Regions from separate parts of the Homo sapiens genome. Here region 2 is linked to region 1. The links come from fine-mapping of genetic effects on gene expression. A gene starts in region 1. The other region holds a variant in brackets. All regions are shown on one strand. Distances are between the middles of the regions. Region 1 holds the start of TMEM181 (transmembrane protein 181). Region 2 overlaps SYTL3 (synaptotagmin like 3).

The links. PIP is the estimated chance that this variant, and not a neighbour inherited with it, causes the effect. A credible set is the group of variants that fine-mapping cannot tell apart.
Region 2: its variant is the best candidate, but not a certain one, in a credible set for the expression of TMEM181 in nucleus accumbens (GTEx, PIP 0.68).

Annotation. Positions count from the first base shown.
Region 1 is chr6:158,557,695-158,562,919 of GRCh38, reverse strand. It overlaps TMEM181 (transmembrane protein 181), which reads right to left and starts at 2,829. Exons shown (of 17, transcript NM_001376852.1): 1 at 2,688-2,829. The coding sequence starts at 2,695. RefSeq lists enhancers at 798-1,297, 1,298-1,799 and a silencer at 2,219-3,138.
Region 2 is chr6:158,664,174-158,669,398 of GRCh38, reverse strand. SYTL3 (synaptotagmin like 3) reads right to left here. Exons shown (of 18, transcript NM_001242394.2): 5 at 3,786-4,004. Among named protein-coding and RNA genes, the nearest start is that of SYTL3, 17 kb to the right of the region's middle. The variant G/C (reference allele first, on the strand shown) is at 3,098.

The DNA.
Region 1 (5,225 bases):
ACCTCAGTTTCCTCATCTGCAAAATGGGGAAAAGAGAAACTTCCTCACGAAAGGTGATAGTGAGGATTCCACGAAACAATGGATGTAAGGTGCTTACGACGGCACTTGCTACATGGTGAACACTCACAGTTATCTTTTACTATTTCTAGAGATCATTTTGGTCAGAACAAAAAACCATTCCATGAGACAAAGTCCTAAATAATTAAATGATTGCAGGAATAGGATACTGACCCAAGCCTGGTGTGCCCTCAAAAGCACTGGGAGACTCAGGAGGCCCAGGACCCTGAAACCACAGCAGGGCTCCAGGATACTTAATTTGTCTGTGCCATGCTTTGCTGCTAGCCGAAGGTGGTTCTAATTAATACACTTCTACATTGAAATGCCCCCAGGATGAAAAAGACACATAAAATACACACTAAAAAATGGCTTCACGTGCCAAGCAAGACACACACACACACACACACACACACACAAAAACAGCCTTATTTAAATTTGCAGAGAAATGCTAAAGTAAGACCAAAGCAACATGTGAGCATGAGAGTCTCAACTCCGTGCAGCCCTGTAGCTCAAACAAGTCAGGTTAGCAAATGAGACGCCCCACACCGTCCTCAGACTCCTAGCACCTCTCCCGTCCCTAGCATCATCAGAGAAGGAATGGAGACTGCAGGAGAGTTCAAGGTAAAACTGTTAAGAACTGCTAACCTTTTTTGCTGATGAGTTTTGATGGCAATCTCTCCTACATTTTTAAAGAGCAGGCTGGGCCGAATGAGAGTCAGAGGTCATAAGGCCAGGGTCTGCAGGGGGACGGTCCCCTACACACCGTAAGCAGAGTGGTGGAGCTGCCCCTGCTCCTCCAAGCGGCTCTGTTCTCTCCCATTCTTTCCCTGGACTTCTCTTCTTTCTCACCTTTCTCACCTCTGGGCTCTCAGGCACACCAGACAAGGACAGAGAACACTCAGTCACCTAAGTCCAGGACGCACTTCGGATTTTCAGGCTTGTTTTTTAGGAGGATTTTATCTGCTACCAAACTCTTCTCAGTTTCCAGGTAGGTGCCTGGAATGCTGGCCGATGGTGGTGGGCTGATTTCCAGATACCCTCATCCCCCTCCGTCTTCCCTAACCCTCTTAGTGCTCCACAGAGCCTGAGGCACAAAGCGCTTACAGCTGCAGGGGGAGGCCTCAAACTCGCACAAAATTCAAGCTGCGTTTTGCTTGTCCTCCTCGGGACCTTTCCTTGGTCAACTGCTTTCTTTGGTCTAGTTCCCTGTCCTGTAACAGCGCAGGACCCTGGCAGAAGACCCAGATCCCTGTCCTGGCCAAGGCCCTCACCACCTCACGTCCCCGGCCTCTCTCCTACTGAAAAAGCACACCCAGCCCACCTATGCAGCTCCAAGGGGCAGCGCGTGAGAGAACTCCTGTAACACGCAGCTGTCACTCTGCTACAAGGCCACAGTTCCACAAGACACCGTTCCAAGCAGTATTATTTACATAGGCCGCACAAGAATCTTGCCCTCTGGAGTTGTGCAGAGGCAATACTGCTAACCTACCTCCACTTGGCTTTTAAAATCTTTAAAACATCCACATAGGTCTGATATTTGATGCCATTCCAGTTTCCCAAGAGGTGCTAAAGCAACATACCAAAGTCAGAAACTTCTAAGGAAGCAGAAGGAAAAACAGATCTCTCTGTCACAGGCACTTGCGCTGAGGCAACAGGCCTGGGTGTCACTTCTCTGACCACGTCCACAGCCAGAGAAATCAGCAAAGATCCAAAGCAAAACCCTTCTGCCTCAAAAACCGCATATAAGCCAAGAAGCGCGCCCAGGCCCCTCGGAGGCTGCCTTCAGTGCAGGGAGCCGGCCCTGGAAGCCTCCTGCGCCAGGCGCGGCTGCACATATGGGCCACTCCTTCTCCCGGACTTTCTGCAACTCCACGCGGCGCTAACCCTCTGGTTAACTCCGTCTCCTTCTTTTCCAGATGCGCCCAGGGGGACACCTAGGCGACTGCTGGGTCAAAAGCAAGCTTTAGGGATGGCGTCCACGAGACCCCAAACAGGTTTTTCCTCATTAAAAACCCTGGACTTCAAAGAGGTAAAGAAAAAAAAAAAAGCCCAAAGTCAGCAGATCGTAAAACGCATAAAACTCATATAACTCGACACCCCGAGTCCAAAGGGGCTGTTGCGGCAGGCTCCCCGGTGCCCACGTCACCAATCGCCTCTGAGAGCCTCGCACCCGGCGCTGGGCGAGACCGCAGGGCAGCGCGGGGCGCTCTCGATACCGAGGGGACGACGGGGCGGGGCCTTTCCGGCAGGAGAGGCTGCCCGGGAGGCGGCGGGACTCCGTGCGGGCGGCCACCCTACGCCGGGGAAGGGCCGCAGCGCCCCCGGTTCTCTCGGCCCCCCGGTGAGCGCTGTGGCTCGCAGCCCCGTCCCGGAACCCCGACCGCATCCCGGTCTCTAACCGCGGCCGGGCGGGCAGGCAGGAGGGAGCCCCGGCCCCGGTCTACTCTCGCCCCGCGCAAACACCTCCGCCTGACCCGCCCGCGAAGCCCCCTTCAGCGCCCTTTTCCCTGCCCCCAGTTCCACGTGGGCGCCAGGGACCCTGCGGCACGGCGCCGGGAGCCAGGGATCCCCAACTTTCGGCCGGAGTGTCCGGAGAGCCAGCCAGCCCGCCCGCTCGGCCGGGGACTCACGGCTCCATCTCGGCGCCCAGAGCCCTCGGCCCCGGCCCGCGCGTCCCGAGCCCGCCAGGCGCCGCGCAGCAGCCTCGGCAGCGGCAGCCGCAGCCGGAGCCGGAGCGACAGCGGCTGAGCAGCGGCCGGCCGCGGAAAACTCATCAGAGCGCGACGCCGAGATCACGTGCGCGGAAGCGACTCTCACGGCGGAAGAGGGCGCGGCGCGGTGGAAGCGGGGCCGCGGGCGCGCGGCGAGGGGGGTGGCCCTCCTTCGTGGCCCCGTGCCGGGGCGGAGCCCCACGGCCGGGAGCACCCAGGCTAGCCCTGAGCTGGGGCTCAAGACAGAAGGAATGAGTGAATGAATGACTTAGTTTACCTCTTGTCCCTAGGGCAGGTAAACAGCGCATTCATTCACTCCTACTTCCCGAGTGTCGGGGCGTAAGGATGGGCCTCGGGAGTCCACGAATGCCCTGCAGTTGTCTGGAAAACACTATGGGTGTCTGCATTTTTCTAGGGAGAGGAGCTATAGCTGTATATTCATTCCCTAAGGGTCTTGTGACCCCAAAAAAGGTTAAAAGCCAGGACAAACTTCTGCCACCCCGAATGATGACAGGAACCTTCCGGGCTCTTTCTGGTAGCTTCTCCCGCAAGCCGCTTCTAGACTGCAGCTAGACCAGTGGACCAAAAGCACTTTCCTGATTTCGCATCTTGGCTCAGTGTTCCCCATTTCTGTAATCAAGAATGGATGAGAACCAAGGTTTGGCTATTTCTGAGATTCTCTTTGGAGCATTACTCAAAATGTCCCGTGTTCCCGTGTGCTGTGGGTTTAAAGTCGGTCTGCATGAGTTAAATAAAGGACTTCCAAGCTTCCTTTGCAATGTATCCTCATTCATTCACTAAACTGTAAACAGGCTTACTATTGGCAGAAAAGTGTGGACATGAATAAGGAACAGTTCCTGCCCTCAGTGAAATTACAGGCAAAGAAAATTACCAACAGTAAGTTAGGTAGCCTTAGCTCAGGGTGCTACAGTGAGGAAGGGTGCCTAACTCGCCTTGGGGGAGTGGAGAAGGTAGGGGACAGAATGCAGAGTTTGGGCTGAATCTGGAGGGTGAGGTGGATATTAGGAAGAGGGGGGTTAAAAGGGGGAGATACCAAGCAAAGCACACCCTAAGCCAGGACACCAAGGAATAGTTACACAAAATCTCATTAGTGCTCTGAATCCTAAACCGCAACTCTTCAAGGAATAACAAAAGATTATTTCTTAAGTTCTTTTCATACATAAGCAGAGGGAAAGGGTTCTTCATAGCAACAAGACCGGAGAACAGAAACTGGGTACCTGCAGGGACAGACTGTTCACAGGGACGTGGGGCGCGGGAAGGGGTGAGTCGGAGGGAGTTCTATGAGCTAGAGCAGGGGTCCCCAACCCCGGAGCCTGTTAAATTACAGACGTGAGCCACCGCAACCAGCCCAAACATGCGTTTTCATGCAACACCTTCTGTTAAATGTTTAGGCCTGAGGATGCCTCCCTACTTGAGTCCTTACATAAGGAGCTGCAGCCTGGCATAGTTAACATAAAAGAGAAGACACCCTAATTGAGGAGGATGCTTTTGTAACAAACAGCTGAGTCTCAGCCAATCACAGCCAGTGAGCTTCTGTCATTGGCAGGTGGTTAGCTGATTCAAATAAGCTAGAACATAAACCTGTAACCAGTTAAGCTGTCTCTGCGCCTCAGTTCCACTTTCTGTCCATAAATGTTGTCTAACCACGTTGCAGCCCCAAAGTCCTTTGAACCTGTTGGTTCTGAGGGCTGCCCGATTCTAGAATCATGAAGAAAAGCTACTTAGGATCTTTAAATTTGCTGTCATTTTGTCTTTCGACACTTCTGATTCTAAAATGTTGGAAACTAATTCGAAAAAATATCTTAAACCCTGGGAGGGACTAAACAAAGCACATTTGCTGGCCACATTTGCCTAGAGGCAGCCAGTATCTACCTCCAGCCCAGAGCAGCATGAGATGATGTGGAAATCCCTGCTCTGTGCCAGCTGCCTGGTCTCTCCTGAGGCATCTCCAGCGAGAGGAAACTGTCACCACCCCGAGGACCCCTGGCCCTCACTGTGTGCATTTGACTCCAAACTACCTCCTGGCAATTCCTTCCTGTCAGATCTCCCTGGATTTGCTGTCCAGCGTCACCCAGGTCAGCATGAGCCCTCTCCCAACACTCCTTCAAGGATGTGAACAACCACATGGCCCTCAGCTCCTCTTCTCCCGTCATACTCGTTTTCTCATTTATTTGTTCTTCAAACATTAATGGAGCAGTGTGTGTGTGCCAGGAACAACTCTCAGCTCTGGAAACACAACACGAATAGACAGATGAGGTCCCTGTCCTTTTCTAGTCAAGAACAAACAATAACCTAAATAATTACTTAATTGACCGGGCATGGGCATGGTGGCTCACGCCTATAATCCCAGCACTTTGGGAAGGTGAGGCGGGGATCACCTGAGCTCAGGAGTTCAAGACCATCTTGGCCAATATGGCGAAATCCATCTCTACTAAA
Region 2 (5,225 bases), 110 kb before region 1:
CTGAAGCTGAAGAATCATTGATTTGTTGTCACAGCAATTACAAAGCATGACAAGAAGATCACAGTTTGAAGGAAACAAGTCTGAACAAGAGTAATTCCTCAGCAATCTTAAGGGAGAAGACCAGGTTTCTTTTAGATGTGGAATTAGTTATGACACAGTATATTCGTTTTAATAGAAAAAATTAATGCAAACATAAATCATCAAGGTTAATCTTATTTTTTTGATGAAGCTAAAACAAACATACAAAGCATAGTCTCCTCCTTGATATTTCAACATAATTGTTACCATCTGCCATTTCACTGCAGAAAGTGTCAATACATTCCCCGGGAAGAAACATCAGTGGAAAACAAGGATGTTTCTGCTTTTAACTTCTTTGTTTCTCCTCCCAAGTCACCCTCTTCTGATCGGCCCCTGCTGAGGACAACAGGAGCCCCTTCACTACTGAAAACAACTTTCCTTGGTTCTTCTAAGTCCTTTCCAGTGTGCCTTTGATTACTGGGCTCTTTCTGTTCCTTCGGTTCTCGGATGCCCCGTGATCCAGTTCAGCATGCCAAGCGACCTGTCTGGCCAGTCCTCAGAATCACTTTTCACCTTTCTCTTTTATCCCCTGTAACCAAGGTCCATCCTCCCCTTTTCCTGTCTCTCCCATTCTCCATCACTATTGCCACCAGCCTCCTCCCTCGGTGCCTCTCATTCACTGCAGCAACTCTCAGATTGCTCTTTTACCTTTACCTTCCGCTCTCCTGATCTTGCCCTGCAAAACCAGGCAGACTTTCGGCATGGTGTTCGCTTGGCAAAGAGCACATGCTCAGGCTCCAGCTCCTACTGTCTTGGAGGCAAGCTCTTCTAAGTGGCTTTTAAGACTCTGCCGGCCGGGCGCAGTGGCTCATGCTTGTAATCCCAGCCCTTTGGGAAGCCCAGGCAGGTGGATCACCTGAGGTCAGGAATTCGAGGCCAGCCTGGCCAACATGGTGAAACCCCGTCTCTGCTAAAAATATAAAAATTAGCCAGGCGTGGCAGCAGGTGCCTGCAATCCCAGCTACTTGGGAGGCTGAGGCAGGAGAATCGCTTGAACCTGGAGGCAGAGGTTGCAGTGAGCCGAGATCACACCACTGCACTCCAGCCTGGGTGACAAGAGTGAAACTCTGTCTCAAAATAAATAAATAAATAAAAGACTCTGCCCTCCCAGGACAAGGCTCCTAGCAGGCGGGAGAGGACTGGAGATTCAGAAGGAGGCCTGGGGGCCGGGGGGACCTGGGTTGCCATCTTCACTCTGTTCTTACTGATATGACATGGACAAACCATCTTGTGTCTCTAATCCTCCACTTTCTCAACTGTAAAATGAGGATGAAAGTAGTAGCTACCCCACACGATTGTTTTATGCTTTTAATAAAACATTAAAAGACTATTCCAACCATGGATGTTCTGGAAGTCGTCTTGAGCCACTCAGCCTGCCTCATCTCTCCCTCTCTGAGCTCCCAGGGCCCTTAGCAACTTGGCACTCAGTTCTCTAAGAGAAAACCTTCCCTGAAGACAGAAACTTTATCTTAAATGTCTTCTGGAACCTCTCAACACAAGATCAGGGCCAACACCTGCCACAGGCCTCTTGTTCTGCAGCAACCTGCGAGTTGGTTGGTTGGTTTTGGTCATTGCTACCCTAGCACTTCCCCTTTCTTGATTTTAAAAACCAATTTTCCTCATCTTGTTCCTGTCACAGATCCACTTTTTCTTGAGAAATGAGCCTGAAGCGAAGGAAGAAGCAGGGGAGACAATGATCGGGGTCAAAAACCTTTTCTAGGTCCCCAGATGTGCGACAGTTATGAATGTCAAAGATTCTAAAGTTTTACAAAGTCTCATCTTTCTTTTGGTCCTAAAGAGGAGGAGGACAGCCCAGACTGGATAAAGCTGGAGAGAGGACAGAGGGCTGCGGGGACAGGGAGCAAGGCGAGGGGAAAGAAAATGCACATCACCACAAACTACTTGGCTCTCTCCCCTCCCGACTTCTCCTGTTAATGCACTCATAGTAATGCAATGACCTTAAGTATTTTGAAAACCAACCTCATTTCAAAATAAGGAAGCTGGGGTTTTAGAAGTCGTATTTCATGTACTTAGAGGGTAAAGTTACAGTGCCTGGGACACAAGACTCACTAGGGCAGAGATTTCAACACTGTCAGCTTCCTGGGAGATTGCCTCAGACCTTGTCCTCTTGTTTTGATTTTTCGTTTACAGTTCATTGGTAGAAGAAGAAAAAATGCTGAGAAATGTAACACCCTGCCCAGCAATGTTTATTATTAGACTTCAAATATATATGGTTGGTTGAAATGGGGAAGAAGATACTGAGACCTTTCTAGAGATGATTTGGAATTGCTCTCTATGCCGCCAGGGCAGCTCACAGTAATTATTTTTTGCTCTCAAGCAAGGAAAAGCCTGAAGGACAATGGCTTCAGCAAACCAAAGAAACATGAGATGAGAAGGCGAATTCGGCCACCGTCCGTGCGACTTGGCACGCTGTGAGCGAAATGGACGGAATGCAGTTCAAGAGCAAAGAAATCAGGTTGAACCACTTCACCTCTCTGGCTAGATGACTGAAATACAGTAAGCCTTGCAAAGGGACAGGACACTTAAGTAAATGAATGCCAGGGCGTGCGTTAAACACAGCCCTCCGGATTTAGGGGGAAGAAACCCCAGCCACAATGCCCACACTGTGTAAGTGCCTCCCACAGTCTTTGTCCCTGGGGCACTCACACATCTGTGGCAATATTTAGAAGTTGTTTTCAAATCTCAGGGTCTCTGATGACTCCCATTCACACCAGCCTAGTATTCCTTCCCTTCTCCGAAGTTCTGTGATGTCCTTGTGCACCGTCTCCCCCAGCAGACGGAGTCACCCCTCTAGTGTTTTCACGGAGCTCATGGCCAGTTCATTCTTGCTTTGAACAGCAGGAGTCTAAGCCAAGTTGGCTCTTTATCGTTTTCAGAATGGGGAACGCAAAAACACCAATTCCATGTTAAAACTGGTATTAAAACCCCCTAAACACCAATTGATAACTATAAACGTAGATTCAGTCTGTCACTAAAGGGAAGCATGTCCATTTCTTTA[G/C]CTGAGTATTAAAGACAGGTCAGCTTCAAAAACGCAGTATTTAAAGCCTCAGATGATTACTCCAATATTCCCTAGATTATAATTTACTCCACTGGTACTGAAGGAGATAAATTAAGTGCTAAGAAAATGACAGCACTTAGTTAAGAGACCCAAATGAATCTGAACTCCTGGGTTAGCCCATCCTTCGACTTAACAAACTTTTGTTGTTTAAACAGGTTCTCACTCTGTTGCCCAGGCTGGAGTGCAGTGGTACAATCACAGCTCCCAGGTTCAAATGATCCTCTCATCTCAGCCTCCTGAGTAGCTGGGACTACAGGCATGCACCACCACACTTGGCTAATTTTTGTATTTTTTTGTAGAGATGGGGTCTCACTACGTTGCCCAGGCTGGACTCAAACTCCTGGGCTCCAGCAATCCACCCACCTTGGCCTCCCAAAATGCTAGGATTACGGTCATGAGCCACCACACTTGGCCCAAACTTCTGTAAATGAAAAAAATGTTGCTACATAAAATTTATTTTTGGATGAAGATAACTTCCAAGGCTAGAAAGGTAGCTCCCTATCAGGCACTCGGTACACATTTACTGGCTGAAGGTGAGGAGTGAGTGCTCTCTTTATGAGCGGTTTGTAAAGAGGCCTCCTCCGAGACCTGAATCAGTGGGAGGGATCCAACCACCGGCCATGCTTACCTGTCCTCGAAGCACACCGTGCACTTCCAGGCATGGGTCCCCCTCAGGAACACTCGGCACTGGGCACACACGCGGTGGCTGCAGCCCCGGCACACGGCGCCCCGGTGCAGCAGGAACCCCAGCACCTGCTGGCAGCGCGCACAGCACTTCTCTTTGTGCTCCCAGTCCGTGTTCTTCGCTCCTTTCCACCGGAGATGCTGCAGGTGTGTTTTCAGTTTCCTGCAGCCCTCAGAGTTAAAGAAGATAGTATTAGATGGAACACCTGACCCCAGGCTATAGGGCAAGAGCCCAGGCAGTAACCCCCATGGCAAGGGAAGGGGCTTTGGCATTCGACATCCCTGGACTCCAACATGGCTGTGTGAACTGGGCTCTCACTCAACATCTCAGAGTCGAGTCTCAAGGGTTTTTTCAACCGTGAAACAGGTGATATGACCTTACCTCCCAGGGTTGCTGTGAGGACTAAATGGCAAAGTATAAATAACATGCCTGGGGCAGAGAAGCTCCCTGCTAGGTCCATCCCTTCCTGCCCAAAGGCTGTTATGATAGTAAGCAAGAATAGTGAAAGGAGAGGAAAAGACACTGAAAGGAGCATCCATTCTAATCTGCAAGGCATGGAATAATCTAGAAACACACAGCATACATCCTGCTATGGGTATAAGTTGCCCAATAAAATCAACTGATGCTATGCTTTTGCTACATTTTTTTTTTAATAAGTGGTCAGCCCACTCCCCTAGACAAATAGCCATAGTGCAAAGAGATACTGTATTGGACCAAAAAGGTGTCATTTACTAGCACGCTCTTTTATGAATGTCTGTGATACCTACTTGTAGAAAAGATGAGCCAATCCCAAGAAACAAGATGACATCAGAAATGCACTTTAAAATTCAACTTTCAGGATCTACCCTAGAATTAGTACCCTTTGAAATACAACTTTGTTATCACTATGTCTATGTCACTTTGTTAATATTCAAAAGGATGTCTCAAATCACTGAAAGATCTTTCATCATCAAATAAAATTTCACTTTTCTCACTGTATTATAGTTTTTGTTTTCGTTTTTTTGTTGTTGGTTTGAGACAGAGGCTTGCTCTATTGCCCAGGCTGGAGTGCAGTGGCGCGATCTCAGCTCACTGCAAACTCCACCTCCCAGGTTCAAGGGATTCTCCTGTCTCAACCTCCTGAGTAGCTGGGATTACAGGCACCTGCCACCGCCCGGCTAATTTTTGTATTTTTAGTAGAGACAGGGTTTCACTATGTTGGCCAGGCTGGTCTCAAACTCCTGACCTCAGGTGATCCGCCCGCCTCAACCTCCCAAAGTGCTGGGATGACAGGCGTGAGCCACCACGCCCAGACTGTATTATAGTTTTTAATGGAAGAAAGTTTACAAGTGCACTTAGAAAGCTTTGAAATAACAGGGAGGATGAAGAATACTATACCAGAAA